Linked DNA regions of Homo sapiens: region 1 is linked to region 2. Evidence: fine-mapped expression QTL. A gene starts in region 2. The other region holds a variant in brackets. All regions are shown on one strand. Distances are between the middles of the regions. Region 1 overlaps RNF103-CHMP3 (RNF103-CHMP3 readthrough). Region 2 holds the start of KDM3A (lysine demethylase 3A).

Region 1 (5,000 bases), 110 kb after region 2:
CCAATAGGATTTCAGTAGTAAATGAGGCCCTTATAATTAAGTAAAACAGAACATAACGTGTACAGAATAAAAAATCAACTAGTAAATTAGACAATATATTTGAAAACCACAAGGAACCTATAGAAAGAGTTTCACACTACCAAAATATTATCCTTTATTCAAATTCATTCACAGAGGTCTATTATATGCGAAACTAGGCAAAGGAAACTAACACCATTAAGAGGTTATTTTCCATGAACAATGCTGAGAGACAGCTTAAGACAAATAGAAAACAAAATGATTGAATTCCTGTTCCATCCTTCACTGAAATTCATTCTAGGTGGACTGAAGACATATGGAATGCAAAACTGTGGTGTTTTAAGAAGACAGTATAGGAGAATACATTTATGATTTCAGGTTAGAGGAGGAGTTCTCTTTTTTTTTTTTTTTTTTTTTAGTATTTATTGATCATTCTTGGGTGTTTCTCAAAGAGGGGGATGTGGCAGGGTCATAGGATAATAGTGGAGAGAAGGTCAGCAGATAAACACGTGAACAAAGGTCTCTGGTTTTCCTAGGCAGAGGTTCCTGCGGCCTTCCGCAGTATTTGTGTCCCTGGGTACGTGAGATTAGGGAGTGGAGATGACTCTTAATGAGCATGCTGCCTTCAAGCATCTGTTTAACAAAGCACATCTTGCACCACCCTTAATCCATTTAACCCTGAGTTGACACAGCACATGTTTCAGAGAGCACGGGGTTGGGGGTAAGGTTATAGATTAACAGCATCCCAAGGCAGAAGAATTTTTCTTAGTACAGAACAAAATGGTGTCTCCTATGTCTCCTTCTTTCTACACAGACACAGTAACCATCTGATCTGTCTTTCTTTTCCCCACATTTCCCCCTTTTCTTTTCAACAAAACCGCCATCGTCATCATGGCCTGTTCTCGATGGTCACTGTCTCTTCGGAGCTATTGGGTACACTTCCCAGATGGGGTGGCCGGGCAGAGGCACTCCTCACTTCCCAGACGGGGCAGCCGGGCAGAGGTGCTCCTCACCTCCCAGACGGGGCGGCCGGGCAGAGGCGCACCTCACTTCCCAGATGGGGTGGTGGCCGGGCAGAGGCGCTCCTCACATCCCAGACGATGGGCAGCCGGGCAGAGGTGCTCCCCACCTCCCAGATGATGGGCCGGGCAGAGGTGCTCCCCACCTCCCAGATGATGGGCAGCTGGGCAGAGGCGCTCCTAGCCTCCCAGATGGGGCGGCCAGGCAGAGGCGCTCCCCACCTCCCAGATGAAGGGCAGCCGGGCAGAGGCGCCCCCCACTTCCCAGACGGGGTGGCGGCCGGGCAGAGACGCCCCTCACCTCCCAGACGGGGCGGCCGGGAAGAGGCGCCCCTCACGTCCCAGACGGGGCGGCCGGGCAGAGGCGCCCACTTCCCAGACTGGGCAGCCGGGCAGAGGCGCTCCTCGCCTCCCAGACAGGGCGGCCGGGCAGAGGCGCTCCTCGCCTCCCAGACGGGGCGGCAGGGCAGAGGCGCTCCTCGCCTCCCAGACGGGGCGGCCGGGCAGAGGCATTTCTCACTTCCCAGATGATGGGCGGCCGGGCAGAGACGCTCCTCACTTCCCAGATGGGGTGGCGGCTGGGCAGAGGCACTCCTCCCTTCCCAGACGGGGCGGCCGGGCAGAGGCGCTCCTCAGTTCCCAGATGGGGTGGCCGGGCAGAGGCGCTCCTCACTTCCCAGACGGGGCGGCCGGGCAGAGGCGCTCCTCACTTCCCAGACAGGGCGGCCAGGCAGAGGCGCTCCTCACTTCCCAGATGGGGTTGCAGTCAGGCAGAGACGCCCCTCCCCTCCCAGAAGGGTCGGCCGGGAAGAGGCACTCCTCACCTCCCAGACGGGGCGGCCGGGCAGAGGCGCCCCTCACTTCCCAGATGGGGTGGCGGCCGGGCAGAGACGCCCCTCACCTCCCAGATGGGGCGGCCGGGCAGAGGCACCCACTTCGCAGACGGGGCGGCCAGGCAGAGGCGCTCCTCGCCTCCCAGACGGGGCGGCCGGGCAGAGGTGCTCCTCGCCTCCCAGGCGGGGTGGCCGGGAAGAGGCGCTCCTCGCCTCCCAGATGGGGCAGCCGGGCAGAGGCGCTCCTCGCCTCCCAGACGGGGCGGCCGGGCAGAGGCGCTTCTCACTTCCCAGACAATGGGCGGCTGGGCTGATACGCTCCTCACTTCCCAGACGGGGTGGCGGCCGGGCAGAGGCTGTAATCTTAGCACTTTGGGAGGCCAAGGCAGGTGGCTGGAAGGTGGAGGTTGCAGCGAGCTGAGATCACGCCACTGCACTCCAGCCTGGGCAACATTGAGCATTGAGTGAGTGAGACTCCGTCTGCAATCCCAGCACCCCGGGAGGCCACGACGGGCAGACCACTTGAGGTCAGGAGCCGGAGACCAGCCAGGTCAACAGGGCAAAACCCCGTCTCCTCCAAAAATGCAAAAACCAGTCAGGCGTGGCGGCGCACGCCCGCAATCCCAGGCACTTGGCAGGCCGAGGTAGGAGAACCACGGGAGCCCGGGGCAGGGAGGCTGCAGCGAGCCGAGACCACGGCAGTACAGTCCAGCCTCGGCAACAGAGGGAGACGGAGACGGAGAGGAGAGGGAGAGAGGGAGAGAGGGGGAGAGGGAGAAAGGGAGAGGGAGAAAGGGAGAGGGAGAAAGGGAGAGGGAGAGAGAGAGGGGAGTTCTTAAACAAGACACAAAGGCAATAACCACTAAAAGGAAAAGGCTTCTTATATTTATCTATATTGAAATTAAGAATTTTTATTCATCATGACTCCATTAAGAAAGTAAAATGTTACAAACTGGGAGATATATTCGTAATCATATAAATGGTAATAAATAAAAGGCATTTACTTATTTTTTAAGAATGGAATTCTCAATATTGTACAGTCAGCCCACTATATCCATGGGTTCTACATGTGTGGATTCAACCAACTACAGCTCAAAAATATTTAAAAAAACAAATGGTTGGCTGCATCTGTATGGAACATGTAGACTTTTCCCATCATTATTCCCTAAATACAGTGTAACAACTATTTACAGAGCATTTACATTG[C/T]ATTAGGTATTATAAGTAATCTAGAGATTAAAGTACACAGGAGGATGTACATACGTTATATGCAATTACCTTTTTCTTTTTAAATCAAGTACTTCAGCATCCATGGATTTTGGTATGGGCGGAGGGACCCTGGAACCAATCCTCCTCAGATACCGAGAAATGACTACATATGAAAATCTGCAGGATAATTTAAGTTTCTGAATGATATTGTCTTCTTCCAAAGAGGAATTACATTTGCTTCTGGCAAACATATAGCTTAAGTGTCCTGGCAATTGGTTCTTAACTAATCTTAATTAATCCTATCAGGGGATAGAGATTATTTGAAACTGGTCTTCAGTCTTTGTGAAAGCCAGTCTACTTCCAGGTCACTATTATTGCTAAGGGGTATTCTTTCAGAGTCCCAACCACAAGCCCTGAATATCTGCTTATGAACTCCAATTTTTTTTTTTTTTTTGAGATGGAGTCTCTCTCTGTCACCCATCTCGGCTCACTGCAACCTCTGCCTCCCAGGTTCAAGCAATTCTCCTGCCTCAGCCTCCCAAGTAGCTGGGACTATAGATGCCTGCCACCACGCCCAGCTACTTTTTGTATTCTTAGTAGGCACGGGGTTTCACCATGTTGGCCAGGCTGGTCTCAAACAACTGACCTCAGGGGATCTGCCCACCTCGGCCTCCCAAAGTGCTGGGATTACAGGTGTGAGCCACCATGCCCGGCCATGAACTCCAATTTTTATACTCCCCAACCACAGGGTTTGTCAAAAACTCTACTCAAATTCTATTTGTCACCCACTGCATTAGGAATTAGAGGATCTCTTTAGGGGGAAGGTAGTCCCAAATGATTGGGTTCATGTAACTGAGCTTCCCTCTTTGCTGAGATCTTGATTTTGCAATTTCTCACTGCCCTGGTAGCTTTCAGTGATTTCAAATAGTTACACTTTTTGTTTAGCTCTTTTAGTTATTTTTGGCAAAGGGTTGGTTCAAAGCAACTTAGTCTATAAACACCTTCATGATTTTTTAAAGAACATGTTTCCCAGTTCTGTTCCATAAAAAGGCTTAGAAGCAGGGATACTCGAATAGCAAGAAGCATCAGGCTCACTCAAATTTTGGTATCTAAATAGCATTCCCGCTAAAAGAAACCACTGCATCTTGGAGAAATGGCCGATTTCAGGTCTCAGGCTAGGAATTCACAAATCATACCAGGATATATGCTAGAAAACAAGGAAGTATTCAAAGATTAGTAAAGTTATGCTAAAAGCAGATAGGAACTGGCTTGAAATAGCTCCCACTGACCAAATGTATAAGTTTTTCAGTATCAAACAGAATAATGGTTAGAACTATAACACACTAAATATATAAAAATCCATGAGTCCAAAACGGTGCTTCTGAGAGGAACGGGTGGAGAGAGAATGCAGTTGATACCACCGGATATTATTATACCAATTCTTTATTCTAAATATTAGCAATTAAATAAAGAGCATTAAGCACTTATCCTGCATTTTCAATAGAAACTCTATGTCAAGGTAACCAAATAGCCCCAGCTAATAAGGGACAGATCTTTATAGAACACTGCCAGCTAAAAATGAAAAAGAAATCAGAGAATTAGAAAAATCACCACTCTAAAAACCCTTATAGAATAGCTGATTCAGGAAAGGGACACCTATAAATGTTAATGTGTCTAAGTGAAGGATTACTGAAGAGCTGGACATTCACATGGTGCTAAAATATCACCCCTCAGGTTAGTTACTAGCATAAAAAGGAAAACATAATGTAAAGATCTGGTGTGTCACTACCTCAACCAGGTGGCCAAAGTTATTAGCATCATTAATTACAAGACAGACATTATATGCCTCCTGATGTGATACACTATGAATCACACAGGTTACCTGTGAGGCATTCTTGCTAAAATTGTTTAACCTGGATCTTAT
Region 2 (5,000 bases):
GTAATTTTCTAATCTTGAAGTATCTTTGCATTCATATAACACTAATTAATCATATCAATTACCTAAAAAAAATGCTGCTGGATTTAATTTGCTGGTATTTTATAAAAGAATTTCCCATCTATGTTCCTAAGTATAATTGAACCATAGTTTTTCTTTCTTATACTCGCCCAGTTCAGAATTTGTGAAACGGTTTTATAACTTTTATAAAATGCATTGGATATCTTTCCATCTTTTCTAAGCTCTGAAATAATGAATTCAACATAGAAAGTATATGTTCCTTCAGGTTCAATAGAATTTTTCCCTTGAGTTGTTTTTCAAATTAATATTTAATTACATAATCTAAGTTCTCCATATCTTCCCTTATATTTTACATTTGAGTTGCATATTTCTGAGATATTTATGTCTTCTACTCTGAAAACAAATTGTCAAATTTGTAAAATTTCTCATCGTTCATAGCGTCACCTTAGGATAGGCCATGTTTTTAGATTCATAACAGTTCAGGAGACCATACTGTCTTCATGGACTTTATCTTTAATATAAAATCCTTTCTCTTTTGATACTTTTAATTGTATTAATATTGCTATACTGCTTTCATTTGGCTACCATTTGATTAAATATTTTAGCCCAGTATTTTCAAGCTTCCTGTTTTGTAAGCATTTGCTTATGGTCAATTTATAGCTGGATTGTCCTTTTATTCCCAACTGTCTTTTAAAACTTGTGAGTGAAATTAACCCATTTACATTTATTGTAAATACTGATGTTTGGACTTTTCACATGAAAAACATTTTTACCATATGTTCTGGTTTCTTTTGCTTATCTCGTTCCCATTTCTGCCTTCTTTCAGCTGGATAGGTTTTTTCTTCTCATTTAGCAGCCCCCTTCCTTTAAATGGTCTACAGATTATAAATCCAATTTAATTCTTGTTACTAACTTTAAAAACTTAAAATCACATTCAGAATATGTATATTGAAAATCAACATCCAGAGTTGATTTGCATCTATAATCCCTTATATGTTTCCAAACATTCTCTGATTATACGTTTCCACGCTTGTAAAATGGGAGGCATGAGTTCTTCTTAAGGATTAAATGTGATGTAATGTCAAACACTAGCCTTTATGAACATATCTTCAATTTCTTCATTCCATTTCTTTTTCATTCAATCAAAATACTTCAGGTCCAGAGCACACAATCACCTCTAAACTCCTTTGTCCTTCAAAGTCACCTTCTCTTTCATCTCTTCCATCATTCATTATGGCCTTCAACTACTTTAAATTTCTTTGTAAGTATCTGAATACCTTCTCAATCCCACTTTGGAGAAAAAAAAATCTCATTATACATTGTATTTAAAGGTCTCTTTTGCTCTAAATTTAATGAACGTCATTATCCAGTAACTCCACGCCTTTCTTCATTTATCCTTCAAAATGGCGGACTTTAGACGTTCCACGATCAGTACCACGTGCGCCTGCGCCTCCCGCAGCCATTTCGCCCAGCAGCCTAAGCTCGGCGAGGCGCCTGCGCACGAGCCTCCAGAGCACTATCGCTCCTCCCTCTAGCTGAGTACGCCTGAAACCGCACGTTCTCTTCCCTGCCCTCCCCCGCTAACCCTGCACCGCCCTCACCCTTTCCTGTGAGATTCTTCCGCCAAGTGGAAGGCTCATCTTCGGTCGACAGCCTACGCGGTTGAAGAACAATCCAGTAGGCACTTATAGCTCAGGGTCTCGCCATTCAGTCTTATCTATGCGCCACAGCAATTTTCCTCCGGGCCCCAAAGTTGATAACCGATTTCGCGGGACTTTTTTTTTGCATACTGTGAGGCAACAAATGGAAAGAATAGGCCTATGGCGGAGGGATCACTCGCTTATTCTCTGTGTACTTTAACCTAATGGGGGTCGCCCGGGAGTCGGAAGGGGGAGGGGAAAGGGAGGAGGCAGCCAAGGAATTGTTTTTTTCTCTGGCCCCGCCCTCGCCCGGGGGGCCAATGGTGATGATCTGTTTCCCCCGGAGCCTCGCCCAGCTCCTGTGTTTCAGCCAATGAGCGGCGGAAGCGGCTCCGAGGGGGGCGGGTCCGGGAGGCTGTGCGTGTCTTGTGAGAGCTCTTGAACCAAGTCAGCGCTGGAGTCGGCTAGGCGGCTGGAAACGGCGGCTGCCGCCGGTGACTCAGGGAGGCGGGAGGCGGGGTAAGAGCGCCGCGGCCTCGGCTGCGGGGAGAGGGGAGAGAAAGGTGAAAGCGCCGAGCGCGCGGCCCCGTCGCCCGTTGGCAGCGGCGCAGGCCCGGGAGACGGGCGCCCGGGGTTCGGGGCCGGGGAGCTGGGCGCCGGGGCGGGGCGGCGGGGCAAGTGCGGAATCGCGGGCTCGCCCACCCTCCCCCGTGGGGCCGCCCGGGGCGGGGACCCAGCCGCCCGGGACCGGCTCTCTGCACCAGGGGCCTTTTCTTTTCGGGGCTGGGGGCTGAGCACTTTCAAATCCACTCGAGCCGCAGATAATTTTTCCCTCACTCCCTCTGCGGTTGCGTTTGAGCTGTTAGAAAAGCCAAACTTGGGAGAGCGAGGGTCACGCGGCGCTGGGGCCCGGGTGTGTGGCGGGGGAGGGCGGCGGGGGGCGGGAGGGCGCAGGAGGGGGGCTCGGTGCGGGTCCGCCCGGGGCCGCGTCCTCGCGCGGGTTCGGCGCCCTCCGCCCGCCCTCCCTGCTGTCTCCGCCCGGCCCCCTCCCACCGGCCGCCCCCGTCGCATTTTGTTTTTGTGTTTTTGCAGGGAGGAGCTCTTCCTGCAGGCGTGGAAACCATGGTGCTCACGCTCGGAGAAAGTTGGCCGGTATTGGTGGGGAGGAGGTTTCTCAGTCTGTCCGCAGCCGACGGCAGCGATGGCAGCCACGACAGCTGGGACGTGGAGCGCGTCGCCGAGTGGCCCTGGCTCTCCGGGACCATTCGAGCTGTTTCCCACACCGACGTTACCAAGAAGGATCTGAAGGTACAGGCGGCTCCGGGCCTCTGCCACCGGACGTTTCGCAGTTACCGTGGTAACGCGACCATCGGTTCCCTCCTTCCGTTTTCTGAAAACGGAGACCAGAAAGTTGGCATATGATCTGAAGGTGCAGGAAGCTAGATCTTGAAAGTCTTTGGAATGGTTGTATAGAGCCGAGTTGTGTTTGGCCCACAGCTCCTGGCTGCCTGGCTTTAATAATGGGCTTAGGGTTGTTCAGACACGCTTCATTAATGCCGGTGCTGTGTCCCACCAGGACTGTCTCATCTTTACTGCAGAGGAGGAGGAGTATTTTTGTTAGCGTTAGGTAGGGCCTGTAAGTGACGTTTGGAGTCATTAAGAATTGAAGGTTAGTGCTTGGAAGTACTTTCAGCTGGTTTTGTTTGTTTGTTCCTGTTAATTTATTCACTCAACTTTTAAAAAAACTTTCAGACTTGTTAAAAATGAAGTGAGTGTAGAGGGAGGAGCTTAAGTTCTGTTTGGCGTATTAGGATGGGTGTTTGTCCGTATATGGTGGGTCAGGGCAGGAGTGGGTTCCTGGTTGTCTGTGATGAGCCGGTGGGTGGGTGTGGGATATGACCATATATGGAGGGATGGGGTGGAGCTGTCCCATATATGGCATATTGGAGGACTGGCTTAGAAATACTGCACTTGGACGCATGAGGGGAGGGAGAGAATTGGGAACAAGTGCGGCCAGTGATTTTTTTTTAAATCATTATGACACTCAGAACCTTTTTCTGTTAGATCTTTTCAAAGACAGATGAATTCTGATTGTGCTCCCTAATAGAAGTATTGATGTGAAAGGATTGTCTGGGAACAAGCAGTGAGGAAGCCATTGTACCAACAAAGACTCCTTTGTGCGAAAATAACTGAAAAAAGGTTCCTAACAAAGACTCCAAAGTGGTGATAACTTGAAGGAAGCTTGTCAGAACAGAAGATATTTCCACCCTGCCTAGTAGATGTGTTTCAGAATCTTCACTTGGCCATCATCTTTGCTTTTTCTTAAACTATGTTCAAATAAAGGCAGCAAGTTTTAGCATTGGCAGTTGATTATATGTTGATTTCTGAAACACTGTTCATTTGAACACTTTCAGGGTGACAGTGTATGCCCAAACTGGTATTTATCTGCAAAGAGTTGTAGGAAAGGGGTATGCTGTTAGGCATGTTTTAAAGCTTCAGTGTTGTGCCTTGTCTCTTGTTGAAAAGGAGGAGTGACCGAAGAGCATTTAACCATGTGGCAAGCACTTCACAACTATGATCTCGTTTAATCCTTACAGCAGTTCTTGGGGGTAGGTACTAATATTGCCCCCATTTTATGGATGAAACTACTGTGCCTGAGGGACGTTAAGCATCTTGCCAAGGACACATACGTAGGAATTGACATAGCCTGTATTCTGTCAAACCCAGGAAGTTTTACTCCAGAAGCTGCCCTCTTAACCATCAGGCCAGTGATCAAGAGCTATGCCACAGCAGAGCTCCTGTCATAGGCTGTGAGGTTTGGTTTTTTCCTGCATTCGGCTCATTCTCCTGCCAAATCAGGTTTTGATGTTTATAGAGATAATATATTGTGGTGCAAGAATGGCCAACCTTTTTGCTTTGGGCTTATAACCTTTCTGTAAGCTGGGCTTTGTGTACTAGATTTCAGTCGTGCTTGTTGTGGTTTATTTCGCCTGCCAAATAAAATTTTCTCTAGTGCATTTGTTTTTATGTGATTTGAATGGAAACAAGATTTTATTTAAACTTTCCAGTCTTTAGTTCTTTGGCAGATGTTGAGAGACTAGGCGTTCCCTTCCCTTCTGTAGCAGCAATTGAGGACCTGTTGGGTTAGGCAGGCAATCTAGGAGGAACTTCACATGTATATATTTTTTAAATCTCCTCCCTCCGCCCCCATCCTTTGAGGAGGTGGTGATATCTTCATTTTCAGAATGAGGAAATAGATTTAGGAAAAGGAATCTTGTCCAGATTTGCATAATTAGCTGCGGAGGGAGGCTGCGAATCCAGATTGGGCCCAGTGTCTTCTCC

Evidence for each region. PIP is the estimated chance that this variant, and not a neighbour inherited with it, causes the effect.
Region 1: its variant is the best candidate, but not a certain one, in a credible set for the expression of KDM3A in whole blood (INTERVAL, PIP 0.58).

What each region holds. Positions count from the first base shown.
Region 1 is chr2:86,547,766-86,552,765 of GRCh38, forward strand. All of the region lies in intron 3 of RNF103-CHMP3 (RNF103-CHMP3 readthrough), which reads right to left. All of the region lies in intron 1 of CHMP3 (charged multivesicular body protein 3), which reads right to left. Among named protein-coding and RNA genes, the nearest start is that of CHMP3-AS1, 12 kb to the right of the region's middle. RefSeq lists an enhancer at 4,954-5,000. The variant C/T (reference allele first, on the strand shown) is at 3,077.
Region 2 is chr2:86,439,268-86,444,267 of GRCh38, forward strand. It overlaps KDM3A (lysine demethylase 3A), which reads left to right and starts at 2,104. Exons shown (of 26, transcript NM_018433.6): 1 at 2,104-2,177; 2 at 2,751-2,966. The coding sequence starts at 2,781. RefSeq lists enhancers at 1,173-1,716, 1,538-1,737, 1,818-1,897, 2,888-2,947 and silencers at 2,028-2,417, 2,638-2,687.